Homo sapiens: one gene and its partners. The protein of the gene in region 2 purifies or fractionates together with the protein of the main gene of each other region. This does not show direct contact. Each region holds a gene or a part of one and is shown on either strand. Other genes may lie near its edges.

Region 1 (4,504 bases), on a different chromosome or scaffold from region 2:
TGCTGTGGGAGCCTGTCCTGTACATTGTAAGGTGTTTAGCAGCATTCTTGATCTCCACCCACTAGATGCCAGAAGCAACACCCCACCACCACCCCCGATTCTGACAATCAAAAATGTCTTCACCGATGGCCAAATGTCCCCTAGGGAAGTAATCTCCCTATTGTACTAGAATATGCAAATCGGGTATAGAGAGTCTGGTCACCATACCACCTAATTTCCCACCATCCCATTCTCCCTCCATACAGCCACCCTGGCCACCTCTTGCTCACCATTCAGTTGTCTTGGAGGGAACAAGTGATAGGTGCTGTAGATATCATTGGAGAACTGCAACTGGAGCTCAGGGCTGCCCGTCAGGAGCTGAGCCACCTGTTCCACCTGAAATGGCGTCTTCTCCAGGATCACAACGGCATCCTCTCCATCCCCATCCCCAGAGGCCTCATTCACCTGTGGGCAGAGGCATCATCAGTGGGCTCAAGGGCAGAACCACGATGAGACTCTGGAGAGCAAGACAGAAGCTCCCAGGGCCTTTGAATTCCCAATACTTGGGATTTCCTTCCCTGAAGTCTTCCCTCTGGGGAAGTCTAGCCAATGGCACTCACATTTCACATTTCTTTTCTCAGAGAAGGCATCTTTTTTTTTTTGAGATGGAGTGTTGCTCTGTTGCCCGGATTGGAGTGCAATGGCGCGATCTTGGCTCACTGCAACCTCCACCTCCTGGGCTCAAACAATTCTCCCGCCACAGCCTCCTGAGTAGCTGGGATTACAGGCGCATGCCACCACATCTGGCTAATTTTTGTATTTTTAGTAGAGATGGGGTTTCACCATGTTGGCCAGGCTGGTCTTGAACTCCCGATCTCAAATGATATGCCTGCCTCAGCCTCCCAAAGTGCTGGGATTACAGGTGTGAGCCACCATGCCCAGCCAGAGAAGGCATCTCCACCCAAATCCTTGTGGCAGTTCTCACACCTTTCTTCCCCAGAATACAAGGCTTCTCAGTTGTCTTCCATTTTAGGCTTACAAGACCTCTGTCAAGTTCTCCCCATTTCAGAAGATGAAAAACAGACCTTGAGTGACTTGCCCAAGGTCACATGAACAGTCAGCATTGAAACAGAAACCAGAACCTAGGTCTCCCAAGTGACTCCTAGCTCGAAGGCTCTCATGACTAACACCTTCAACAGGTGCTGCACACTGAAGACAGCTGGGCTGAGAGAACCAGACAGAATCGCATACAAAAAAACAGAAAACAAGAAACAAAAACAAACAAACAAACAAACAAAAAACAACAAAAAACAAGGCCCAGCGCAGTCGCTCATGCCTATAATCCCAGCACTTTGGGAGGCAGAGGTGGGTGGATCACCTGAGGTCAGGAGTTCAAGACCAGCCTGGCCAACATGGTGAAACCCTGTCTCTACTAAAAATACGAAAATTAGCTGGGCATGGTGGCAGATGCCTGTAATCCCAGCTACTTGGGAGGCTGAGGCAGGAGAATCACTTGAATCCAGAAAGTGGAGGTTGCAGTGAGCCAAGATAGTGCCATTGCACTCCAGCCTGGACAAGAAGAGTGAAACTCCATCTCAAAAAAAAAAAAAAAAAAAAAAAAGGCGGGTGCGGTGGCTCACGCCTGTAATCCCAGCACTTTGGGAGGCAGAGGCAGGCGGATCACCTGAGGTCAGGAGTTCGAGACCAGCCTGGCCAACATGGTGAAACCCCCATCTCTACTAAAAATACAAAAATTAGCTGGGCATGGTGGCGGGGGCCTGTAATCCCAGCTATTGGGCAGGCTGAGGCAGGTAGAATAGCTTGAACTCGGGAGGCAGAGGTTGCAGTGAGCCGAGATCACATCACTGCACTCTAGCCTGGGTGACAGAGAGGAGAGACTCCGTCTCAAAAATAAATAAATAAATAAATAAAAATTTAAAAACCAGATACACACAGAGGCATGGAAGCCTAGGCCAAGGTTCCCTGATCCTCCCAAAGGTGAGAGTTCCTGCTAGTAGTTCTAGGGAACCCCCTTATCTGCCCTGGCTAGGCCTCCTCACTAGTTTCTGGGGAACCCCCATATCTGCTCTGGCTAGGCCTCCTCACTAGTTCCTGGAATGGTCTCCATCTCTCCTCAGCCCCTGCCAGATTGCTGAGCACGTTGGTATTGGAGCAAGCTGTGTGTATCTGTCTCGCCAGAAATATTCCGTAGTCCTGAAGATCAGGGATGGTAACTTTCGTCTCCACATCCCCAGTACCTAGTTTAGTGTCTGGCATGCATGAAAGTGCGTGCGTAGAACTGAATTAACAATTATAATATATTGTTCTCCTGTTACGGCTGAAGTCGCGTAAGGCAGAGATCACATCTCCTACAGTCTCATGTCGTTTCCACGGACAGGGATGAGCGAGACATCTAACATTGACTGGGTTCCTAGTCCCTGTATACATAAATGGATGATGAATGGCTTGGGGAATGTAACATGTGATCTTTAATCTGCAATGCACTCTCCCAGTAGATATTTCTAGTGGAGACATTAGAAAAATTAGAGCTAGATGTGTTCATTGCCTTAATTTCAAAGGCAATCTTGCCGCCTTTCACCGCCCCTCTATGCATTCTAGTGGCGCACTCCCGCCTCCCCGGAGTGATAATGATTGGTATTTTCCAGCCGAGATCCGAAAAAAAAAAATCTGCCTCCGAGGCGATGATTGGTTCACTGCTTCCCGCATCCCACCTCAGGGTTGCCTCCTGGTACCTTCCCGTGTAGGAAAATGATTTTGTCCCGCGCAGACTCCCTCAGCACCTTCTGCAGTCTGAAGCCGGAGAACGGTAAGCGGACAGGAGCACAGGTACCATTTCCAACTCCTGCCTCCTTTTCCTCTGTGCTGGCGGCGTGGGCCTCCTCCACGTCCAATTCGCGCTTCCTCTTGCCTAGTTGAGGAGCTGCGTCCGCCATGCTGCCGCGGAGGCGGTGTGCGCCTGCGCCCCCTGCGCTGGCCCCGCCCCTAGCCCGAGTCCAGCGGCCTGGCTGGGCTGCTAACTCCCGGCCTACCCTGCTCTGGCACCCGCTCCTGCGGGATGCGTGCCGCGCATGGCGGAGCCCGCTGACCTGTCCCAGGGCGCGCCTTTCAACCGAGTTACTGCCTTTGGCCCCGTTGTGGTGCCGGCCGGCCCTCAGGGAAGGGAAAAGAAGGCTGAGAGTCCCGAAAGCGGCGGGCTAGAGGTGGCTGCGCAGTGAAGAGGGACCCCCAGGCCCACGCCCCGGGGTGGGAGCCGAAGACGCCCTTGGGCCACGGTAGTGTTGGAGCCCTTGTTTGAATACTGACATTTTAATCATAGTTACACCGACGTTGACCAATTATCGGGGAAGCAACGTTTCTGACGCAAATCCGTGAGCCCATTTGATTCCTTGGTCGATTTTTTATACCGAGTATTTAAGCCATTTCCATTTTTCTCCCATTTTAATTACTTTGCAGAAATTTTCATCGTGGTCAGTTTTTTACTTTGTAGACTCAGTACTTTTCTGCTGACAAAAAAGGTAAACGAATATGGCCAGAAGAACCATCTCCACCACCCACTTATTTCCGGGCTAGAGGCATCCCCCTCCTCTCTATTTTGTTTACCTGTATTTCTGCCCTGCTACCCAGGGATATGATTTGCAGTATGATTCGTCTCCCAGGGTTTCGTTTCTCTTTTTTTTTTTTTTTTTTTTTTTTTTTGCCATATAAAATTATTACTTGTAACTTCTGCTGTTGAGGGTTTCTTTGGTGACCATTGTTTCTGGTTAGCCCGTTTTTCACTGGTGTTATTTAACAGATCTAAATTTTGTGAAGAGTTGGTACTTACGGACAGGCGCGGTGGCTCACGCCTGTAATTCCAGCACTTCGAGAGGTCGAGGTGGACGGATCACGAGGTTAAGATACCGAGACCATCCTGGCCAACATGGTGAAACCCCGTCTCTACTAAAAATACAAAAATTACCCGGGCGTGGTGGCCCGCGCCTGTAGTCCCAGCTACTCGGGAGGCTGAGGCAGGAAAATCGCTTGAACGCGGGCGGAGTATTGTAGTGAGCCGAGATCGCACCACTGCACTCCACCCTGGCGACAGAGCGAGACTACGTCTCAAAGAAAAAAAAAAAGAGTTGGTACTTACATCGCTTCAGTCAGCCACACATTTATTTTGCCAGTGATTTGAGTTTAGGTTTTCAGACAGATCTCATGGGTGTGGGACAGTTTTTGCCATTCTCAACGTTAGCAACAAGATGCAATTTACAGTCAGTTTTTGGTCAATAACAAAGTGTACCATGTGTTAGTTTGATTTTTGGATTACTTCTACCAGAAATATAGATTAGGAGTTGGATAAAAGACTACTTTAGGCCAGGCGCGGTGGCTCATGCCTGTAATCCCAGCACTTTGGGAGGCCGAGGTGGGCGGATCACGAGGTCAGGAGATCGAGACCATCCTGGCTAACGTGGTGAAACTCCGTCTCTACTAAAGATACAAAAAAATTAGCCAGGCGTGGTGGCGG
Region 2 (3,734 bases):
TAGGAATTGGGAGGTGGCCCAGGACTGGCAAGTGCTGTCCCGGGTACACACCAGGCACCACCAGGCCCATCTTGAGCAGGTGGCTAGAAAAGCGCAGACTCAGAGCCAGGAAGGTAGAAGAGACCACACACAAAACACAAAACCACGAAAGGCAGGGGAGACTAGGCTGTGGTCCGTGAGTGGTGGATAGTGAGACAGGCTGTAAAAGGTGTGATTACGTAAATGCTATCTGCATTGTTCTTGTAGGTATTAAAACCAGAAAGCTGGCCGGGTGTGGTGGCTCATGCCTGTAATCCCAGCACTTTGGGAGGCCAAGGCAGGCTGATCGCTGGAGGTCAGGAGTTCAAGACCAGCCTGGCCAATATGGTGAAACCCCATCTCTATTAAAAACACAAAAATGAGCCTGGCATGGTGGTGCATGCCTGTAATCCCAGCTACTCAAGAGGCTGAGGCAGGAGAATCACTTGAACCCAAAGGCGGAGGTTGCAGTGAGTCGAGATCGCACCACTGCCCTCCAGCCTGGGCGACAGAGCAAGACTCTGTCTCAAAAAAAAAAGAAAACAGAAAAGCAAGGGAGACATGAATGAAATGTGTTCACCCATAGCGTTGCCTAAGTGTGTGTATATGGATTGATAAAGCAATCCTGCTGTATCAGAAGCATTGACCACTAGGATCCCTTCCAATGTTTAGACTCCATGCCTCTGGTTTTGTTGGCGAAGCGTGCTGAAGTTAGTGACACTGAGCATCAGCGCTGTCCGGATGTTACTATTGCAAGTTTCCTAGCTTATCATGAGCATGGGTCACCGTTGTCATTGCGGCTTGTACTTGGGGAGGGCCACGGTGCACTATTGTGGCCTGACATGGCTGCACTGCTGCAGGAAGACCGTGTAACACAGAGCCTGGGGGCCACCTTCTGCCCAGCTGGACTCCCCACTGCTGCACAGCCCAGGACTGTGGGAAATGAGCATGAAGCATTCCTAAAATAATTAGAAGCTTCTGTTTTCTTACATCTGGGCCCATGTGAACCCACAGATATAGCATGGGACACAGAGTATAGGCAGCAGGCCACGGGCCGTGGGGTCTGAGACCACACTGCGGACAAGCAGGTGGACCCCGAGGCCCAGAGTCTCCCCGACCCCAGCACCAGCCTGTTTGCTTTGGAGCCTGGCTCTGCCCTGCAGCAGTGCTCAGCCTGAGGAATTCCAGACTCCCCACCACTTTGGCCTTGTCGTTTCTAAGAAAGAGCTGGCCGCTGCAAGCTTGGACTGGCATCCTTTTCTGAGGATGTAGCTTTTCAACAGGGTCCAGGAGGAATCACTCCCTTGGGCTCTCCGGGGAAAAAAGCTTAATAAAGATGTCTCTCATTCTCTCATCCTCTTTGTCTTGTTACTCTTGTTTCAGATGTAGTTGCCCATTCAAATACTCTATTTCTGTTTCAGGAATATGTGTCTGGGAAGGAAGGCAGTTGACAGTTGTTGGAAATGAAAACCTAGTTTGCTTGAGATATTTCCTGCACGTCCCCTTGGCTGTGTGTTTGCAGCCCTGCTGGGAAAAGGTGGTGGGGGAGAGTTGTTTTGAGCTGGGAACATCAGCCTGGATTCTAAACTTAGGCCAGCCTGGCCCCAATTTTATATCGACTCTGTCCACCCTGTTTGCAGTCCTGATGGGAAAGAAAGTCTGGCTGGTATTCTCTCTTGTCTGAATATGCCTGAGCCGTGTTCCTTTCATCTCCTGAAGTAGTTGGAAGTGATGGTTGCCGTGTCTGGGCTGTTTAATGTCCAGGGCAGTCAGTGTCTCAGGGGTGAGAGGTTTTCTCCCTTACCAGTTACCTTCCAGCCCATAACGTTGGTTTCTGACTCTGATCCCCTTAACTTCTGCAAGATTCATGAAACTCTTTCTTAGCCATCAGATAGTAACCCAGAATTGAATAGTTTGGTGCTAGAGGGAAGGGAAGAGGGAAGGATCAAAGCCCAGGAAAGACTGGGAGCAGAGCACAGAGGCCCAGGGGGAAAAGGCCAAGTGGATGCCTGTAGGGAGAGGAGGAGGCTGTGATCGAGAAGGGCATGCATGAGGGAAGGAAGAGCTGGGAGACTGCCAGGTAATTCTCAGCCTGGATATTGTGAGCCGAGAGAGAGGAGGAGGCTGTAAGACCCAAGAAAGAGACAGCAGAGGGAGGAAAGAGTGGGATGGAGGGTACTGTCAGGAGAGAAGGCCAGGAGCAAACCTAAGTTCTTCCCTGCTCATGGCAGGCTCAGGAATCAGCTAGAGTTAAAGCTTACCCGGGGCTGCCAAGGGCTCAGGTGAATGCAGGGTGGACGCCGTCCTTGAAGTTCTAAGAATTTCAAGGAGATGCAAGGGTGGAGGATGTACCAGGCGGGGTTGAGTGGAGCTGGGAATCCTGTCACCCAGCATAGAGTGGGTGGGGGGCATGGGCTCACAGGTGTTGCCAAGCAGAATGTGGCAGGCTCAGCTCTGCTGAGATGAAGCTGAGAGCCCACGGGTGTGAGTGGTGCCCTGGGAGCAGCGCCCCTGGGGAAGACAGAGAGGAGGGACCTCGGGTCTGAGGAAGCTGGGAAGCAAGGCCGGGAAGGGGTCTGGTGCTGAGACCAGTTGGGGAACAAGTGTGAGACCTTGGAGGTGGCGCATGGTGGCTCAAAAGCTTGTGTGGAGGCAGAGGGGATGAGGGGGAGGGAGAAGGATGGGAGACATTGTCACTGTGGATTCTGATGTTGCAGGAATTGGGGTCAAAGAAGGAAAAAATGAGAGCCGGGGAGTAGTCAACCAGGAGGGCGCTGGCGGGTCTGGGGAGGGTGCGGAGTGTAGAAGCTGGAATAGGACTTTGTGGTGAGGGGTTAGAATGGGTGGGTTTAGGGAATGGCCAGGTGATGACATCAGCAGCCTGGAAGGGCAGCGGCCAGCCACCCTGTCCACGACTGAGCCTCGGCTCTCCTGAGGCTAGGTAAGACTCCCCTTTATGGGACGCAGTGTCAGGGCCCAGAAGAAGCACTTCAGAGCAGCACCTTTGCCTCTGTTTCAGGATCGCTGGTGACACAGCCCTCAACAAAAACATCCACGAGTCCGTCAGCGCCCAGATCCGGAAAAACTTTGCCAAGAGCAAATGGAGAGTAAGTGTGGAGTATATGAAATTCCCCGTGGATTAACCCCCTCGTGACACTGGCCCTCCAATCTGAGCATTTCTGAAATCCCCAGAACCTCACCTGAATAATTTTGCTAATTTTAACTGCAAGTAATAAAGACTCAGAGGGAATATTATGGTGTAAGAGGGATGGAGTGTGCAATTCAACACTTCCCCTCTGTGATCAAAGACAGCAATAGTGCCAGCTCTTCCTCATCTGCTGTTTCTTAACCAACATCACCCTTGTCTTTCTTCACCTTGCTAGAACTTTGAATAGCTGACTTTTATTAAAGCGATATGGAGGGGGAAAAAACAGGAAATCTGAGTTGTACTCATCAATGTTTCCTGATAAAAGTTTGACAGATTTAAACCATGGAGGTTTTGTGATCATCTGTTGATTACCTGACTTCCTAATCTCTTGATTACCTGACCTCCCCTCCGTGTTCCAATCAGCAATGGCAATTCAGAGCTAGCTATTTTGCCATGAGGGCCAATGGTGAAAGATGAGACGGAAACAAAATTAATTTTGCTGGCCTGCTGTATTCATAGGACATGCTATCATTAGGTTGGCGCAAAAGTAGTTGTGGTTTCTTCCATT
Region 3 (4,167 bases), on a different chromosome or scaffold from region 2:
CCAAAAATAAAATCAAGTAACTACTATCTGAACTTCTATTAGGCTGCTTTAGGATTTTAGAATCAGAGAATTCTAAGATCAGAAATAATCTTGGAGGTACAGTAGTCCTCCCTAATCTGCGATTTCACTTTCTGCAGTTTCAATTACCTGAGGTAAAACAAGATATTTTGAAAGATCACATTCATATAACTTTCATTTCAGTGTATTACTGTTATTCATTTTATTATTATGTATGTATAGCAAAAAACATAGCGTATATAAGGGTTGGTACTACCTGTAGTTTCAGGCATCCATTGGGACCCTTGGAACATATCCCTCTAGGATAAAGGAGGACTACTGTAATCTAATTCAGCCCTACTTTTATAAAAGGTTATAAATACAGAAGGAAGTTAACTGACTTGGCCAAGTTCGTTTGGCAGAGCCCGTACTGGAATCTGGCCATGAAATTCTAACTAAGTATACTTTTCACCACATCATGGTTGTAAAAAAAATTTTTGATTGGAAATAATGAAAGTGATTGAAGTTTTTCCTTGAATAAATTATTTGAAATTGTTAGTAGCCTGTTTTTTGTTTTGTTTTTGAGACGTAGTTTCACTCTAGTTGCCCAGGCTGGAGTGCAATAGCGCGATCTCGGCTCACTGCAACCTCCGCCTCCAGGTTCAAGCGATTCCCCTGCTCCAGCCTCCTGAGTAGTTGAGATTACAGATGCCCGCCACTACGTCTGGCTAATTTTTGTATTTTTAGTAAAGACGGGGTTTCACCATGTTGGCCAGGCTGGTCTTGAACTCCTGGACTCAAGTGATCCACCCGCCTCAGCCTCCCAAAGTGCTGGGATTACAGGCATTAGCCACCATGCCCGGCCTAAAGGATTATTTTCAATACATTTTTAAATCCTGCACTTGCTTCTGCCAGCTACCCAGTACTCAAAAGGGTATTTTGTAGAACCCAGCCTTCAAAAGGGTCCTTAGAAAGTGGAAAGTAATTTACATATTATTCTAAGTAATGCAAAATTAGTTTAGTATGTGTTCAGAGATTAATAACATATCCCAAAACAAAAAAGACATCTGAATTGATGTTATTGATATTAGTGCCCATAATTAGTTGTGTCTTGAAAAGTACCTTAATTGTCTTAATTGTGCATTTTATCTCAACTGTTATTCACAGAGCGCAAACCAACTTGGCAAAAAGCATGCTGAAAGAATATATACAAAATACGTGATATGAACAATATGTACCTTGGGAGAGCAAAGAAAGGTAAACACAACATAGACAGATTCGACTCTTAGAACATGGGTCGTCCAGGCACGGTGGCTCACACCTGTAATCTCAGCACTTTGGGAGGCCAAGGCAAGTGGATCACCTGAGGTCAGGAGTTCGAGACCAGCCTGGCCAACATGGTGAAACTTCGTCTCTAATAAAAATACAAAAAATTAGCTGGCTGTGGTGGTGGGTCCCTGTAATCCCAGCTACTCGATGGGCTGAGGTAGGAGAATCCCTTGAACCCGGGAGGCGGAGGCTGCAGTGAGCTGAGATCGGGCCATTGCACTCCAGCCTGGGTGACAGAGTGAGACTCCATCTCAAAAAAAAAAAAAAAAAAAAAAAGATGGGTAAAATTTGGATAGAGAAGAGCATGAGTAAACACACGGAGACAGAAATAAATTTTTGCCTCCTTTAAGTTTCTAAAATTGTCTAGTTAAAAAAAAAATTTGACCCCCTACTACAAAGGTAGATGAGATCATGGAAAGCTTGAAGACCACGATGAGAAATAGAAGTTTCCATGTTCATCCTAATTAGGAGAGTGACATTATTTGAGATTTCATTTCTAATTCTAAATTTCCAGAATTTTAATTTTTGACCCTATTAGCTGAAGAAGATTTGTTGAAATATTTGTTCAACATTTGTTGAACTTATTCAAGTTTCAAAAAACAAAAACATTCCTTAAAGCATCTATCTCATCAATTCTTTAACTTTCCCATAGGGAAAGTCCACAATCTCCCTCAAACAAAATTCACTATCAGAAATATTTGCATTTAACCTCCCCTATTTTTAAACCAAGGTAATATCTTTTAGTGTTCATATTCGTCCACGGATTTAACAGAGCCTTAGTAGCAGGCTTAAATGGTAGCACTAGCTTATTCAATTGCATAAAATGTACATTATTCAATTTAGAAGTTTAGCAGACATAGAATTTCAAGAGGTTCTGTCTCTCAAAAATCATAATGGTTCCCGTTCATTCTCATTCCCTCATATTCTCTCTCTCTCTCTCCTTCTTTCCCTCCCTCTCCCAGCCATTTGATACTGTAAAATAACTGTCATCTAAGACCGTTGCAAACACCAACCACAATAACCATATTTGCTCACTGAGTTGCCACTTAGCAGGTGCAACAAGGAAATACTGTTTCTCATCTCCTAAAACCAAAAGGGTTCATCTCGTACCTAATTTGTCACTTAAGTGAAAAGCATATCACGACTTACACTAACTTTCTCCTAAGTGTCAGAGGTTGCTGGCTTAACCAGACCGGAGAAGAGCAGGATCCCCGGGCCTAGCTTTGCTGAGCGGCACAGGGGAGCATCGCCTGGAATTGGTGGGTGTCCCTCCTCACTAGTGGGCACCCCCTTGCCCATCGACCTGCCCAAACCCGAAGGGACCCCGCCAGGGTCTCGGTTTGGCACCTACCCTCTCCTGCTCCCCGCCAAGAGCCAGCCACCCTCCTCGACCCCGAAGAAAGCTCGGGTGCCCAGCTGCGAGTGGAGCAGAGGGAACCCAGCGCCTCCGGCTCGCGCTGGGAGCCCCCTCCCCGCCGGTGCCCCGCCCACAGCACGGCCCCCACCATCCTCTCTGCTCTGGCAAGGCAGGCGAAGACCGGAGCCTTATCTCCGGACTCCCCCACCCCTAATCTCCCGCCGCGCTGCTCCGCACCTACCGCGCGGCCACCGGCCTTACCTGGCCGGGTCTCGGCGAGCGAGGCTGCGCCTGGTGCTTGCGTCCAGCGCACAAACCTGTCCTCCAGCCCCCGGCCCACCGCTCCGCTCTGCCCCTCCTCCCGCCGCGCGCGCCCGCCTCCTGGCTGCCATGGCGACAGTTCCCACACTCTGCGGCCGCTGATTGGTCCGGTTCGCGATTGCTGACGACGCCGATTGGCGGGAGCAGGGACAAGGCCGCGCCGGGGAGCCTGGAGGCGGGCGGTGAGGAGGGCCGAAGCTGTGGAGCCTGGTGGGAGGCTGAGCCAGGAGGGACGTGGCGCTCTGAGATGCGGGCTCAGGAGGCCGCGCCTCTTCCTTCCCTAGCTTACCCGGAGAATCCTGTGGAGCAGGACTCGGGCGGGTGAGGTGCCGTCCTGAGACCCGGGCAGAGCCCCAGGGATCGCCTCTCCCTTGGCCTCTGGCCTGCGCCTGCAGCGCCCACGCAGGTCGGAGAATGGCTGTCAGGCCTATTCTCGCCCACAGGCCTCGCTCGGCTCTGACACCCCCGTCCTCCGCCTTGGCGGGAATCTTAACGGCATTTGTAACCGCACCCACCCCCGTTGTGCTGGGCCCTCGGTCACTGTGGTTTAACTGTATTTACCCACCTTCTCTCTTGCCCATTCGCAGACAGCTCTTTCCTCTGCATCCTGCCCCAGAGAACAGACATCTATTCCAAACCCCTCATTTTAAAGATGGGGAAACTGAGGCTCAAAGATGCACATGGGTAGCTTGAGCCTTCCAGAAGCTTTTGGAGCCACAGGCTGTTTACGAAGTTTCATCCTGCCGATTAGTTTTTTTCACCTGAAAAATTGGTATCATATCTACCTTAGGGTTATTCACGAAGATTGAATGAGATAACATTGCCAGGAAAACAGTACAGACTAGGCATGGTGACTCACCCTGTAATGCCAGCACTTTGGGAGGCCAAGGCAGGAGGATGGCTTGAGCTCAAAAATTTGAGACCAATCTGGACAACAGTGAGATCCTATCTCTACAAGAATATTTTTTACTTTTTTATCTTTAACACAATGATGTTTCAGTCTGAAGAAAATACTTAAAAATTTGCCAGGTGCTGTGTCGCACATCTGTAGTCCCAGCTACTCAGGAGGCGGAGGCAGAGGCGGGAGGATCACTTGAGCTCAGAAGGCCGAGGCTGCAGTGAACCATGATCATTGTGCCACAGAGTGAGACCCTGTCTCAAAA
Region 4 (3,734 bases), on a different chromosome or scaffold from region 2:
AGATCGCGCCACTGCAGTCCAGCCTGAGCAAAAGAGAGAGACTCCGTCTCAAAAAAAAAAAAAAAAAAATTAGCTGGGCATGGTGGCGGGTGCCTGTAATCCCAGATACTTGGGAGGCTGAGGCAGGAGAATCAGTTGAACCCGGGAGGTGGAGGTTGCAGTGAGCCAAGATTGTGCCATTGTACTCCAGCCTGGGCAACAAGAGCGAAACTCTGTCTTAAAAAACAAAAAAAAGACTGGAGTGGGGAAAGGTGGTGTAACTTCATGGGTCAGAGTGATCCACATTCCTTAGCTCTCCACAGCCATACATGCCCAATGTGGGTTAGGGGGCAAAAGAAGCTGGGTACTTGCATAGTTGCTGGATCTCCTAATAAGATGAAGAAGCTGTGCCTGTGGTATATCATGCTTTGTATCCTTCTATAATGCTACATAAAGAGTAGATTGCAGCCTATTGAATCTGATTGCCACTTTGAATCTGCAACTAGAGATGTGCTGCTACAAATTTACTTTGTAATTTAAAACTGACTTTCTAAATTGTCAAGTTTCTAAAATTATAGCTAAAGCAACCAATAGTAAGCCCATATGCTCAACAATTTTACCTGGATGTTCTTTTATAATGATCCTCATATAACCAACTAGTCCATATGTCCTACAGATCAAAAGAGGAATCTGGGAATTCCAGAGGACATCTGCTAAGCGTAGTGAAGTGCTGTTTAAAAAAAAAAAGCAAAATATGAACATAAGCAAATGGAAATATGCCAAACATGAAAACATGCAAAACATGAAAATGTCTTACAGCAACTTTCTTACTAAATAATAGATGCAAAGGTACATAACTGCATTTACATAAGCAGGTCAAGAACACACTGAAAAGCAAGCATTTCCACAGGCTGCAGTCTCAAAGAAAGTACATCTTTGGACAAGAGGGATGTGAAACTTTAGTCTGTCATATTAAGGAGAAACGTTAAAGAAAGATAATTCTAAACATTTCCATGATAGAGAAAAAATATAAAACCCACAAATACACCCCTAACAATTCCAATAACCAATTCTCTGTTGCCCAGGCTGGAGTGCAGTGGCATGATCATGGCTCACTGCAGCCTCGACCTCCCAGGCTCAAGTGATTCTCCCATCCCAGCCTCCTGAGTAGCTGGGACCACAAGCAGGCACACCATCTGGCTAAATTTTGTAGTTTTTGTAGACACAAGGTTTTGCCATGTTGCCCAGGTGGTCTTAAACTCCTGTGCTCAAGTGATCTGAACCTGTCTCAGCCTGGTTCTGCTGGAATTACAGGCATGAGTCACTGCACCCAGCCTTCAATAATCAATTCTAACTAGTTTTTAATCACTAAAACAAACAAAGAACAAAAACAACAACAACAAAAAAACAATGTTCGGTTTAACTGCTCTAAATATATTCCAAAAGTTTCACATCTAAGGTTAGGCTTGGTGGCTCCACAACTGTAATCCCAGGACTTTGGGTGGCTGAGGCAGGCAGATGACTTGGGGCCAGGAGTTTGAGATCAGCCTGGCCAACATGGTGAAACCCCGTCTCTACTACAAATACAAAAATTAGCCGGGCACGGTGGCACATGCCTATAATCCCAGCTATTTGGGAGACTGAGGCACGAGAGTTACCTGAACCCAGGAGGCAGAGGTTGCAGTGAGCTAAGATTGTGCCACTGCACTCCAGCCTGAGCAACAGAGCAAGACTCTGTCTAAAGAATAATAATAAAAAAAAAAGTTTCAGTATTTTTCTCTTCCTCATCTTTTCAATGCTGGAAGATTTCTAAGAATTTCTTTTATTTATTTATTTATTTATTTATTTTTTTTTTTTGAGACAGAGTCTAACTCTGTCACAAGGGCTGGAGTGTAGTGGCACGATCTTTGGCTCACTGCAACCTCCACCTCCCTGATTCAAGCGATTCTCTTGTCTCAGCTTCCCGAGTAGCTGGGACTATAGGCGTGAGCCACCACGCCCAGCTAATTTTTGTATTTTTAGTAGAGATGGGATTTCACCATGTTGGCCAGGATGGTCTCAATCTCCTGACCTCGTGATCCACCTGCCTCGGCCTCCCAAAGTGCTGGGATTACAGGCATGAGCCACCGTGCCCAGCCATAAATCTGAAACTCTTGACCAGGCACGTTGGCTCACACCTGTAATCCCAACACTTTGGGAGGCCGAGGAGGGTGCATTGCTTGAGCTCAGGAATTTGAGCTCAAGCTCAAAAAAAAAAAAAAAAAAAAAGTTTCATATTTAAAGTTTCTATAGAATTTAACAATTTTTAAAACCATATCATCATAGACTGTGCAAAGAAAATAAAACAATGCAAATCTAATAAGATTAAAATAAAAACATATTAACATAAAAATTTACCTTTCAGGAAGCTGAGTTGCAACTACAACAGTAAACCTACAGAAAAATGAGGGATCATTGTCTAGAAGGTTTTCTGGACTCTAAACAGGACAGCAAAGAAAAAAACAAACAAAAAAAACCAATTTCACAATCATATTAAACATGGCAGAGACAGTTAAGCTATTTTACAACAAATGAGGCAACAATTCCAATTCAACTAATCATAAATGACACAAAGATTCAAAATTCTAAATTTCTGGGGCTTTGAATTATTTAAAAAATTGTATTTCAGCACAGACATAATAATGTGTGTACATATATACCTCTTCCACAAAACTTCCAGAGACATCGCTATTTAATTCTTGTAAGAATTCCATGGCAGCTTCAGCTCGGTTCTTTTTAAAAACAAAGCATTTAACTTGAATTAGAAAAAACTTGGTCACAATATAATCCCCCAATTTATGGAACAGGCAAACATACTGTAAAACTATCCAAATTTCATGCATAAGTATGACAACTCTGTTTCCCTTCTTTTTTCTTTTTAGAGACAGGCTTTTGCTCTGTTGCCCAGTTTGTAGCATAGTGGCCTGATCATAGCTCACTGCAGCCTTGAACTCCTAGGCTTAAGCAATCTTCCTGCCTCAGCCTCCCAAGTAGGTGGGACTACAGGCATGTGCTACCATGCCCAGCTAATTTTTTAAAAAAATATTTTGTAGAGACAGGGTCTTGACATGTTGCCCAGGCTGGTCTTGAACTCCTGGTCTCAAGCAATCCTCCTGCCTTGACCTCCCAAAGTGCTGAGATTACAGGCGTGAGCCACTGCTCCCAGCCAATTCTGCTTCTCCTAGTGTTTAAGACTCAACAGAATATTACTTAAAACAGAGCAAAACCATCATCATCCAGAGTTCTCAAATGACATTACTTGTACTCTACTTTTTTGATTAGGCAAATGACCAAAAAACTCTGGGTAGCAGGCAGGGATATCCTGGATCAAGTTCAGACTCACTCTAACCACCCACATCTATAATCCTGTACAAGAGTGGTTAATCACTAAGCTAAAAGTCATTTCACTAAGTTGACTAACATGGTTTTGTAAGATTTTTTAGGCTGGGCGTGGTGGCTCATGCCTGTAATCTCAGCACTTTGGGAGGCTGAAGCGGGTGGATCACAAGGTCAGGAGATCGAGACCATCCTGGCTAACACGGTGAAATCCCATCTCTACTAAAAATACAAAAAATTAGCCAGGCGTGGTGGTGGGCGCCTGTAGTCTCAGCTACTCGGAAGACTGAGGGAGGAGAACGGCGTGAACCTGGGAGGTGGAGCTTGCAGTGAGTCGAGATCGCGCCACTGCACTCCAGCCTGGGGGACAGAGCGAGACT
Region 5 (3,734 bases), on a different chromosome or scaffold from region 2:
GATCCACATGTCCCCTTCTCTTATCTCACTGCTGTCCACCTTCTCTGAATTCACCTAGACTTCATTCCACAATGGCAAGTGATGCTCATGTGAAAGGCTGGGGGGAACCTGACCAGCTCTCTCAGCCCATGACTTCCACACCCTCTCATCACCTGAAGACAAAGGGACCAGCTAGCACCCTGTCCTACCTCCAGCATCGGGACTCTGCTCGAAATCCTTGGACATTGTTGTCCCCTCCAATCAAGTATACGAAGTTGTTGAGCACCGCGATGCCCTGGTTGGACATGCGGGGGGCCAGGGAGGCAGTGAAGTGCTTCCACTCTCCCAGTAAGGGGTTTAGATACTTGGCCTGGTCGCTGAGGACAGTGGACGGCGTGGAGTGAATGCCCCCGAAGCCCACAACGCACTGGAAGTCCGACCGCAGCTCCGTTTGCGGGCTCTGCAGGCTGGGCTGTAGGCTCTCGTTCCGGTGGTACATGAGGGCGCTGGCCACTGTGTCCCTCAAAGGGCTGGGGTCCAGCTTGTCATGCAGCCGCTGCAGGACCTCAGCTTCCATCAGCGGAAACCGCACTGTCTCAAGGAGCTTTGGGGGCTCGTGCAGCGAGATCTGGTCAGCCTGCACCTGCTCCAGGCTATAATGGTAGAGAAGGGCCCCCTCATATACCTCGGTCTCGCAGGAGACCTCCAGGCGATTGCTGCTGAGGAGGGAGTAGACCTTCTCCAATGGAAGCTGGCGGTACTTGTCAGTCCGAGAGAAGGCCACAAAGTTTTTGAGGATATAGGTGTCCAGTTGCTCAGTCAGGCGGCTCAAGTCAAACAGCTCTGCCAGCCGGTAGACATCGAGAATGTTCTCTTCGTCCACCCAGGACATGAGGAAATCACAGCAGAAATGGATAATTTCTGGGATCTGCAGAGAGAATGACACCCATTCAAGCCTGGGCTGGTGAACAGCATCTGGGGGTGGGAGAGAGAATGATGGCAGAAATACGGGCTGTTGTGGGCCAGGCAAAGCAGAAGGGAAGTCCTCCTTAATTGTCCCCGACCTTTTCTGACACACTGGAGACTGGGGCTTACTGCAGACTAGGTTTAAGTCCTGGTTTGGAAACATACTGGGTGACAGGATATACAGCATGTTTTTTTTTGGTTTTGTTTTGCTTTTCTTTGAGACAAAGTTTCGCTCTTGTTGCCCAGAATGGAGTGCAGTGGCAGAATCTCGGCTCACTAACACCTCCCCCTCCCGGGTTGAAATGATTCTCCTGCCTCAGCCTCCCGTACAGAATGTTTTTAACCTCTCTAAGCCTCAGTCTCCTCATCTATAAAACGGGGATCATTAAAGTGAAGAGGAACATGATGAAAATGAGAGAGCACATAGGAGTGGACCCTTGATATATGTCAGTTCCCTCTTAGATCAAAAGTACTGGCTCGGCCGGGTGCGGTGGCTCATGCCTATAATCCCAGCACTTTGGGAGGACAAGGTGGGTGTATCACGAGGTCAGGAGTTTGAGACCAGCCTGACCAACATGGTGAAACACCGTCTCTACTAGAAATACAAAAATTAGCTGGGCGTGGTGGCGCGCGCCTGTAATCCCAGCTACTCAGGAGGCTGAGGCAGGAGAATCGCTGGAACCCAGGAGGCGGAGGTTGCAGTGAGCCGAGATCGCGCCATTGCACTCCAACCTGGGTGACAGAGCGAGACTCCGTCTAAAAAAAAAAAAAAAAAAAAAAAAAGAAGTACTGGCTCTCCAGAAAAGCAGGAAGCAGCACAAATGGTCACTGTGTCATATATCTGTGGTTTGGAAAGGACCTAAGACCATCCCCATCCCTACCCTAGGATTCTCTGGAAGAGCCTGCCTCTCCAAAAGCGCTGGGACCAGAAACAAACCTGGCTTTTTCCCCCGCCAGAACATCCACCCTGGTTCCCTAGAAGTGCTCAGAGCCTCTCAGACACCTAACCAATACCCACCCAGGAACCTGATTTAGAATTATTTTTCTTTTTTCTTTTTAAAATTTGAGACAGGGTCTTGCTCTGTTGCCCAGGCTGCAGTGCCATGGCAAGATCATAGCTCACCGAAGTCTCAAGCTTCTGGGCTCAAGTGATCCCTGACTCAGGGTTCTTGAGGTTCCCAGCTGGGTCAAGACCCACTTGACTCCAGTAAGTGCAGGGGCTCCCAGGTGGCCATATCAACCCTTCCCAGCCATGGGGAAGCACTAGTGGTTTGAAAGGACGGCAAGAGAGAGAATGACACTGGAGGGAGGTGGGAACAAGGCCACAACCAGCAGGCTGTTAAAGGCCACCCTGTGAACAGACAACCAAATCTTGGGAGAATAGGAGACAAAGGGAAGGGCCCTAGGGAAAACTGCCTGGGAGAACAAACCAGGTGTTGATAAATTATTTAGGAAAGCAGGATTTTAGAGTTTCAGTGGGGCCCCCCAGTGCCCACCTCCTTTCTTTCCATGTTCAGATTGAAAATGACGAGTACCTTGACCTCTCTGTGACCCAGACAGCTGCAGGTTCTCCCAGCAGGCTTGAACCCAAACCAGGCCCTTGAACATTCCCAGGCACTGATAAAGGCATCAAGGTTGTTACCCAAAACACTGAAGGAAAAACTGGTTCTGGCCCTGAGACAAATTCCTTAAACCCTCATAGAAACTCCATACACTAACCCACTCTGTGGGCAAGCCTGGGTAAAGCCTCTCTTTTCCCTTGTCTGTCTTGAGGACATGCTACATCACTCTATACATAAGTTCCCCTAATAAACGCTCTGGCCAGATCACCCTGGTGTTTGATGCTTCTTTCTTTGGAATCCCAAAACGGCTCCATTTCAGGATGCTGTGGGGTCCCCTCTTGTGGGAACCCCCTTGCTACCAACTCCAGCCATGTGTTCAATGCAATAAATCAGTTTCTCTAAAAATGGGAATACCTGGCTTATCCAGGATCATCAATAAATTAACCATTACACATGGAATAATTCTGCTGGTATTTATGTATTTATTTATTTATTATTTTGAGATGGGGTCTCACTCTGTTGCCCAGGCTGGAGTGCAGTGGCACGATCTCGGCTCACTGCAAGCTCCGCCTCCCGGGTTCACGCCATTCTCCCACCTCAGCCTCCCAAGTAGCTGGGACAACAGACGCCCGCCACCACGCCCGGCTAATTTTTTGTATTTTTAGTAGAGACGGGGTTTCATCGTGTTAGCCAGGATGGTCTCGATCTCCTGACCTCGTGATCTGCCCGCCTAGGCCTCCCAAAGTGCTGGGATTACAGGCGTGAGCCACGGCGCCCGGCCAAGGTATTTAAAGCTTATCAATAAACACTAACTATAACTTTTTTAAAATTCAAAAGACATCTAATATTGCTTGCAAGGTGACATGCTAAGAGCTGGATGAGACCTACCAAATGTCAGGCAGGTATGTGCCCTACATGAGGTATCCCCATGGTGCTTTGCTAGGCCCTGACCAGCTTCACTTGACCTTCTTTTTTCCCTTTTTGCCAGTCTTCTGCTTTGCCACTTCTTCCCAAACTACTAGGTTTTCCTAAAATTCTGGTTTGTCATGGGCCAGGGTCCTGAAGACCAAGTTTTGGGCAGAATGTGAGCACAAACAGCCCTGAAGAAGCCTGGGCAGCAGCAGCTCCTTGAGAGGACCCTGCTGACTCTCCTTTCAGTCCTATTTTTAGAGCAGTGGGCCTTCTGTTCAGTGAAATCTCACAGAGGAACCAGCCTGGGCTCAGGAT
Region 6 (3,734 bases), on a different chromosome or scaffold from region 2:
AACAATTACACATTACAAAACAAGATCAGTGTTTGCTTGCTAACATATAGCAGTGATAGGTTTCAAAAAAGGCACTGTCAACAACTGTACAGAGCTGTATGAAGCATTTTCATGCCTATTATTTTAATTCTCAGCCACCTCTTAAGCCAGATTCTCCAGATTCTCACTCCTGCATCACAAAAGAGCAATCACGGCCAACAACTTGTCAAGATTTATATAGTCTCATCTTGACTTCTGTACTTTTTTTTTAAACCAATGCAATAGGGGCAGAATGTGTTGCAAAGCAGCAAACTAGAGCTATCTTAGATAAATAAATAAATACACACACACACACATATGATGGGGTGCATTATGGAACTTGCTATGGTTTGAATGTTTGTGTCCCCCCAGAATTCATGTTGAAATCCTTACCCCCAAGGTGACAGTATTAGGAAATGGGGCCTTTGAGAGGTGTTAGGTCATGAGAGTGGAACCCCCATGAATGGAACTAGTGTCCTTGTAAGAGGAACCCAGAGTCATCTGTGATATAAGGTCACAGAGAGAAGAGAGCTTTCTGTGAGGAAGGAGGACCTCATCAGACACTGAATCTGCAGGTGACTTGATCTTGAACTTTCCAGCTTCTGGAACTGTGAGAAACAAGCTTCTGTTGTTTAAAGCCACTCAGTCTATGGTATTTTGTTATAGTAGCCCGAATGGACTAAGACAGAACTCAAGAAGAGGGAAGGATAGCTGAGTCTCCCTGGAACCCACTGGGAGACCTGGCAGTCCTCTCTGCATGTCTGATTCTCTGTCATCTTCTCATCCACATCCCTCACCCTCTGGTTTTTCCATGCCACACCAAGACCACAGTTTCCAGCATGGCACAAGGGTTCAAAGGGCACATTATTCATTCAGCCCTAGAATGAATAATGAGCCTGAAATCTCAGTTGGAGTTCCAAAATTCCTGGGACATGACTAAGCTTAGGTGAGAGGGGTACTCTCTACTCAATTGACTCTAAAGGAAATTATCAGAATAGTACTGGAAATGAAGTAAAATCATGGGTACCATGTTAGACCAATCTGGCCAAATCAATGATTGCAAATGTTGTGAAGAATTATCAAATGTTTTACTAAGATGATTATACAAAAACCTTTAAAAATTCAAATGAAAGAATTACATTTAGTAAAGTGTAAGTTTGGGTCCCTGGGAGTCTGGAGGTTGCCTGCCATACTGGACTGTGATGAAAGCATATTCCTACTGCATGAAGCCAGTGAGATGTTGGGATTATTATTGCAGTTCAGCTACCCTGATACTGCATTACTACTATAATCAACAGGAAAACAAACTAATAAGCTCCTTCCAAAATGCAAAACTTCAATAGTGGCCCATGGTCTACAGAATGAAGTCCTCAAGATGACATACATGGTCTTCTTCCATGACCTAATCCCATGCACTTCACATTCTGAAAGTCTCATTGACTCTCCTAAATGTTTTCCAAAGAACCTAGACCTGTTTTTCTCCCTCACACTACTGATCCCAATGTATTGTAATGAGTTGTTTGCTGTCCCTCTCTTTTCCTAGATTGTGAGTCTCCACGACGGCAGTGGCTTTTTTTCTTCTTTGCAGATATATCTTCAACACAATATCATATGTTGGGCATATAAAAGATGCTGAATGAATAATGTGCTCCTAAATGTTCACAGCTCCCTGAAAATTCATGTAATTTTAGAGCCTGGAAAGTAGGAAAAACCAATTCTCATTTTATTGAAACATATTGTCTTCTAAAATTGTTAATTCCTGAATACCCAACTCACTGACTTAAAGTTCTGACAATATTACTGAAATGAAATGAAAAGCCATGAGTAAATAATATCCTTTTGAATTAGAATTGGTTTCTAGACTAAATCCTTTAAGAGTTGGAAGCTTTAAAAACTCTGACCTCCTAAAGTCAGAATTGAAATTTTTTGTCTTAGGAACTTGAGGTGAAATGAATCATAGGTATTTTATTAAATGGGGGTGGATTCTGAATTATTTCAGAGAGGAAGCAACCTTAGAAACATAAAAATCATCATTATTAACTCAAAATGTTCCACTTGTGAGGCGGGCATTCTCAGAGAAGCACAGTTATTTTACGTTCCTTGGAAACTTTAGGCTTTGATTGCCTTTCCATCAAAAATAAAAGCATTTTATATTAAACAACATCATTCAAGGTTGAGGCTTAAATGTTACTTTAATAGTATCCACAAAGAATCTGGTTTAGTTATTAAAATGACTTATTTTTATTTAAAGAAAAAATCTGTGATTTTACTCATTGTATATATAGAAGTGAATTTTTAAAAAATAGTTTCTTCTTTTATGTGGATTCTCTTAAGATTTGAAGAACCAAACTATTCTTTGGTTTTATTATACGGGAAAAACAACACGCAGTCTAGTTAAACAACTTTGTGATATTTATATTCCATTGCACAGATATGGGTTATACAAATTAGTAACACAAGTTATTTCTTAAATTCCAAACATTTTCTAAAATATTATTACAGCAGATGCCTAGGATATTAAAACATAAAGGTGGAAATCATTCTCTAAATAGTTAAATATATTTGACACTGAAAATACTGCACATTTTAATTAGAGGAAAATTAAAATGTGTGCTCAAATGCACTAACAAACTAGGTAGCAGGGCAACTAACAACTACAAATAAGTCACTGTGGTCCATTTTTACGTATGCATATATATGATTATTCTCTAGATAATCCGTCTTCTTGAAAATGCTAATAAAACATAAAAATCCAGATAAATGATTTAAAGAAATTGTAATTCTTCCTACTACCTAAGGTGACATGTACTATTATCTATGACTTCATACAGTTACTAATTCAAATATAAAAGACACCACACTTCGAAAGAAAAAAATTTTAAGGTAATGGTTTTAATTGAATTAATGAGATGAAAAGATAGTAAAGCCCTGTTTGCTACTTACATGAAAGAAGACTTTAAAAAATAATCACTGCACAAAATGTAAAGGGTGGGGTTATGCTGTGATATTAATTTTCCTCAATAATGTTTTTCTTGACTGTTCAAGAACAAATTAAAGTTTCCACGGCAAATTTGTTTTCAAAATGCCGAATTGCGAAACAATTGCTGGCTTCACGTTTCTGAATACCTGTTGGAGAGGGAAAAAAGTTTTTTAAAATTTTGATTCTTTAATAATAAATATTCACATCATTTTTATAGTTATTATTTAGACATATAGAAGTATTTCACTCTATATTCCACAAAAACTTCTACAGTTTGAATGTTTACACTGAAGAAAAGTAATTTTTCTCCCTTTTCTGAACCAAGTATTAATATCTTGACAGATCACAGCAACATTAATAATGCTATCCAGACTGCTTACAAATTCATGAACTTGAAGGTATTGAAAATGTTCTGTATCTTGACTATGGTGGTGCTTGCAAGACCTTGTGTATCTTTGTGGAAACTCAGAGTTGCACACTAAAAAGGGTAAATTTCATGGCACGTGTAAGGCTGACTTTAAAAAAAATTATGAACCAAGAGAATTTTAAAATGTAAGAAATCAACACAGCAATAAAAAAGAAATCATGTCCTTTGCAGCAGTATGGATACAGCTGGAGGCCATTATCATAAATGAATTAACACAGAAACAGAAAACCAAATACCTACCTTACAATGCTCTCACTTATAAATAGGAGCTAAACACTGGGAACTCACTGACATAAAGATGGGAATGAT
Region 7 (3,734 bases), on a different chromosome or scaffold from region 2:
CACGAGGTCAGGAGTTCAAGACCAGCTTGGCCAACATAGTGAAACTCTGTCTCTACTAAAATACAAAAATTAGCTGGGCATGGTGGCATGCGCCTGTAGTCCCAGCTACTCGGGAGGCTGAGGCAGGAGAATGGCTTGAACCTGGGAGGTGGAGGTTGCAGTGAGCCAAGATCATGCCACTGCACTCCAGTCTCAGTGACAGAGCGAGACTCCATCTCAAAAAAAAAAAAAAAAAAAAGATGGGGTCTCCCTATGTGGCCCAGACTGGTGGATGAGCCTTTAGAGTGTAGGTGCCTGTCCTACCCCAGCCCACCGCCCTGTACCCCATACCCCAGGTGGGCTGGGGCCCACCTCCGCATTCACCCTTACCAATGCTCCTCAGCCGATGGAACCAGCGGACCGTGCGAGGGAAGTGGCTGTAGAAGGTGGGATTGGGGGCTCCCAGGAGATCAAGAAGCATAAAGAGCTCCTAAGGAGAAAGGCTAGGACTGGAGGGGCCCGTGCAGGATGACGCCAGCCCTGCTTAACCTGCTCCCTCCCTCGCCAGAAGCCAGGGGACCCTGGTCTTACAATAGCCTGGATCCTGGTGGGGCCGGGGCTGTGAGGTATAGACTCCATGAGCTGGGCCAGGTGCCGGGAACCGTAAAGGGAGTCCTTGGGTCCCCACTCCTTCAGCGCCTCTTCACCATCCAAGAAGAGCAGTTGCAGGGTCACCGGGGCTGCCTGTGGGAGCAGCAGGGGGGTGGCCAGAGCCAGCTCAGGACTAGCCCTCAGCCTCAACATACCCACACTTCTTGCCCGCTTGCATGCTTAAGAGAACACATAAGGTGTCCTCACTCATAGAACGTGGTAGCCAAGAGCACAGATTCCGAGTCAGTTGTCTGGGATCAAATCCGTACTTGGCTGCTTCATAACAAAGCAGGCATGGGGAAGTTACTAACTTCTGGAAGGATCAGTTTCTTCATCTATAAATGGGGTTAATAAGAGGTTTTTTGTTTTTTTTTTGTTTTTTGTTTTTTTTAGAATAAATCTTGCTCTGTCACCCAGGCTGGAGTGGAATGATGCAATCTTGACTCACTGCAACCTCCACCCCCTACCTCCCAGGTTCAAGAGATTCTCCTGCCTCAGCCTCCCATACAGCTGTGACCACAGGTTCCCGCTATCATGCCTGGCTAATTTTTGTATTTTTAGTAGAGACAAGCTTTCACCATGTTGGCCAGGCTGGTCTCGAACTCCTGACCTCAAATGATCCACCTACCTCAGCCTCCCAAAGTGCTGGGATTACAGATGTGAGCCACCGCGCCCGGCAATAACAGTTCTTTTCAAAGGGTAAGGTTTGAATCCAGGTCTTAGAACAGTGCCTGGCATATAACTAAATAAGGGTTATCTCTGATTATTATTCCTCAAGCTCAGTTTGGTGAACCAGATAGATCCACAAATGAATAATTATACAAACAGTGAAATGCAGTTGAGACAAATGCTTCTAAGAACTATAGAGTCCTGAGAGGGCATAGGAAGGAGGCTGGGGGATGACCTGGCCTGGAGAGGGCGTTGGGTCTTTTGGGAAGGGATGTTTGCCATGAGAATGGGTAGGAACTGGCCTGGCAAAATGGAGCAGGAGGAAGAGTATTCCCAGCCAAGGGAGCAACACAGGGCAAGGCTATGGCCAGGGAAGGGGTCCCAGAGGTTTGAGAGGGGTACGGAAGGTTTAGCAAGGGCCAAGGAGTGTGGGCTTTGTTATAGGGACACTGGGGAGGCACAGAGAGGGGTTAAGCAGGGCAGGAGCATGATTAAATCTGTGTTTTTCTTTTCTTTTCTTTTTTTTCTTTCTTTTTTTTTTTTTTGAGACGGAGTCTCGCTGTATCGCCCAGGCTGGCGTACAGTGGCGCGATCTCGGCTCACTGCAAACTCTGCCTCCCGAGTTCACGCCATTCTCCTGCCTCAGCCTCCCAAGTAGCTGGGACTACAGGCGCCCGCCACCACGCCCAGCTAACTTTTTGTATTTTTAGTAGAGACGGGGTTTCACTGTGTTAGCCAGGATGGTCTCAATCTCCTGACCTCACGATCCACCTGCCTTGGCCTCCCAAAGTGCTGGGATTACAGGTGTGAGCCACCGCACCTGGCCTGTGTTTTTCTTTTCTGTTTGTTTTGAGACAGAATCTCGCTCTGTCATCCAGGCTGGAGTGCAGTGGTGCGATCTCGGCTCACTGCAACCTCCGCCTCTCAGTTTCAAGTGATCCTCCTGTCTCAACCTCCCAAGTAGTAGGATTACAGGTATGTACCACCATACCCAGCTAATTTTTGTATTTTTAGTAGAGATGAGGTTTCCCTGTTGGACAAGCTGGGCTCGAACTTCTGACCTCAAATGATCTGCCTGCCTCGGCCTCCCAAAGTGCTGGGATTACAGGTGCGAGTTACCACGCCCGGCCGGGAAGGCCTCTTTGAAGGGGTGACATTGGAGTGGACACCTGAGTGAAGAGTGGGAGCCAGCCAGGAAGATATCTATGAAAAGCATATTCTTTTTTTTTTTTTTAAGAGACAAGGTCTCTGTCACCCAGGCTAGAATACAGTGGCACGATCATGGCTCACTGCAGTCTCAAACTCCTAGACTCAAGCCATCCTCCCCTCTCAGCCTCCCAAGTAGCATGCCACTACTCCCAGATAATTTTTTTTTTTTTTTGAGATGGAGTCTCGCTCTGTTGCCCAGGCTGGAGTGCAGTGGTGCAACTTTGGCTCACTGCAACCTCCGCCTCCCGGGTTCAAGCAATTCTCTGCTTCAGCCTCCCGAGTAGCTGGGGTTACAGGTGTGCACCACCAAGCCTGGCTAATTTTTGTGTTTTTGGTAGAGATGGGGTTTCATCATGTTGGCCAGGCTGGTCTTGAACTCCTGACCTTGTGATCCACCCACCTCAACCTCCCAAAGTGCTGGGATTCCAAGTGTGAGCCACGGAGCCTGGCCAGAAAAGCACATTCTATCCAAAGCAAACAGCAAGTGCAGATGCCCTGAGGTGGGAGCAAGCTCTGCGGGTTTGAGGAACCCAGAGGAGGTGGGGGTGGCTACAGCAGAGTGAGCAAGAGGTGAGGGGTGGGAGATGAGGCTGGAGAGGTAACAGGGCACAGCTCGTGGGCCAATATAAGGACTCTGGATTATGGCTGGAATGAGGCGGGAGCCCTGGGAGGGTTTGGGGGAGAGGAAAGAGAATCTGACATCTAGAAGGTAAAAAGATCCCTGTGATGACCAGGCGCGGTGGCTCACGCCTGTAATCCCAGCACTTTGAGAGGCCGAGGTGGGCAGATCACCTGAGGTTGGGAGGAGAATTGCTTGAACCCAGTAGGCAGAGGTTGCGGGGAGCCAAGATCTCGCCATGTGCACTCCATCCTGGGGAACAAGAGCGAAACTCCGTCTCAAAAAAAAAAAAAAGATCCCTGTGGCTCTGTGCGTGGAGTAGAGTGGGAAGACGAGAGGGATGACAAATGTCCAGGCAAGGGAGGGTGGGGGCTTGGGAAAAGGTGGAGGTAGCCCACTACCCTCCCCGACTCCTGCTCCTCACCTGTTTTTTGGCCCTGCTCAGCTCCAGGTCAAGTGCTTGGGCCAGCTCCAGCAGCAGGGCACAGGGCACAGCCGAATCCGTGGCCCCTACAAAGGGGGTCGATCCGGGTGGGAAGAGCTTCGAGTCATAATGGCAGGCAAGGGTGAGGTGACGGGCAGCCCTTGGGTCCAGTGTGGCCACCAC

The links.
Region 1: the proteins of CAMK1D (region 2) and DCPS fractionate together in Homo sapiens (co-fractionation; one large-scale study listed by BioGRID). This does not show direct contact.
Region 3: the proteins of CAMK1D (region 2) and NUCB2 fractionate together in Homo sapiens (co-fractionation; one large-scale study listed by BioGRID). This does not show direct contact.
Region 4: the proteins of CAMK1D (region 2) and NAE1 fractionate together in Homo sapiens (co-fractionation; one large-scale study listed by BioGRID). This does not show direct contact.
Region 5: the proteins of CAMK1D (region 2) and KLHL22 purify together in Homo sapiens (co-immunoprecipitation; one large-scale study listed by IntAct). This does not show direct contact.
Region 6: the proteins of CAMK1D (region 2) and ITM2B purify together in Homo sapiens (co-immunoprecipitation; one large-scale study listed by IntAct). This does not show direct contact.
Region 7: the proteins of CAMK1D (region 2) and QPCTL purify together in Homo sapiens (affinity purification with mass spectrometry; 3 studies listed by BioGRID and IntAct, with this or other methods). This does not show direct contact.

The regions. Positions count from the first base shown.
Region 1 is NC_000011.10:126,302,510-126,307,013, reverse strand, and holds the start of DCPS (m7GpppX diphosphatase), read right to left. Parts: upstream 2,955-4,504; 5' UTR 2,934-2,954; coding exon 2,733-2,933; coding exon of another isoform or gene 2,712-2,732; exon of another isoform or gene 2,692-2,711; intron 445-2,691; coding exon 270-444; intron 1-269. UniProt on the Homo sapiens protein: Decapping scavenger enzyme that catalyzes the cleavage of a residual cap structure following the degradation of mRNAs by the 3'->5' exosome-mediated mRNA decay pathway.
Region 2 is NC_000010.11:12,821,428-12,825,161, forward strand, and holds part of CAMK1D (calcium/calmodulin-dependent protein kinase type 1D), read left to right. Parts: intron 1-3,037; coding exon 3,038-3,125; intron 3,126-3,734. UniProt on the Homo sapiens protein: Calcium/calmodulin-dependent protein kinase that operates in the calcium-triggered CaMKK-CaMK1 signaling cascade and, upon calcium influx, activates CREB-dependent gene transcription, regulates calcium-mediated granulocyte function and respiratory burst and promotes basal dendritic growth of hippocampal neurons.
Region 3 is NC_000011.10:17,275,606-17,279,772, reverse strand, and holds the start of NUCB2 (nucleobindin-2 isoform 1 preproprotein), read right to left. Parts: upstream 3,035-4,167; 5' UTR 2,945-3,034; exon of another isoform or gene 2,921-2,944; intron 2,751-2,920; exon of another isoform or gene 2,476-2,750; intron 1-2,475. UniProt on the Homo sapiens protein: Calcium-binding protein which may have a role in calcium homeostasis. Acts as a non-receptor guanine nucleotide exchange factor which binds to and activates guanine nucleotide-binding protein (G-protein) alpha subunit GNAI3.
Region 4 is NC_000016.10:66,820,851-66,824,584, forward strand, and holds part of NAE1 (NEDD8-activating enzyme E1 regulatory subunit), read right to left. Parts: intron 2,751-3,734; coding exon 2,679-2,750; intron 2,457-2,678; coding exon 2,377-2,456; intron 710-2,376; coding exon 600-709; intron 1-599. UniProt on the Homo sapiens protein: Regulatory subunit of the dimeric UBA3-NAE1 E1 enzyme. E1 activates NEDD8 by first adenylating its C-terminal glycine residue with ATP, thereafter linking this residue to the side chain of the catalytic cysteine, yielding a NEDD8-UBA3 thioester and free AMP.
Region 5 is NC_000022.11:20,464,670-20,468,403, forward strand, and holds part of KLHL22 (kelch-like protein 22), read right to left. Parts: intron 908-3,734; coding exon 189-907; intron 1-188. UniProt on the Homo sapiens protein: Substrate-specific adapter of a BCR (BTB-CUL3-RBX1) E3 ubiquitin ligase complex required for chromosome alignment and localization of PLK1 at kinetochores.
Region 6 is NC_000013.11:48,260,549-48,264,282, reverse strand, and holds part of ITM2B (integral membrane protein 2B), read right to left. Parts: intron 3,145-3,734; coding exon 3,059-3,144; 3' UTR 1-3,058. UniProt on the Homo sapiens protein: Plays a regulatory role in the processing of the amyloid-beta A4 precursor protein (APP) and acts as an inhibitor of the amyloid-beta peptide aggregation and fibrils deposition. Plays a role in the induction of neurite outgrowth.
Region 7 is NC_000019.10:45,695,536-45,699,269, reverse strand, and holds part of QPCTL (glutaminyl-peptide cyclotransferase-like protein), read right to left. Parts: coding exon 3,552-3,734; intron 728-3,551; coding exon of another isoform or gene 724-727; coding exon 571-723; intron 489-570; coding exon of another isoform or gene 483-488; exon of another isoform or gene 470-482; coding exon 370-469; intron 1-369. UniProt on the Homo sapiens protein: Responsible for the biosynthesis of pyroglutamyl peptides.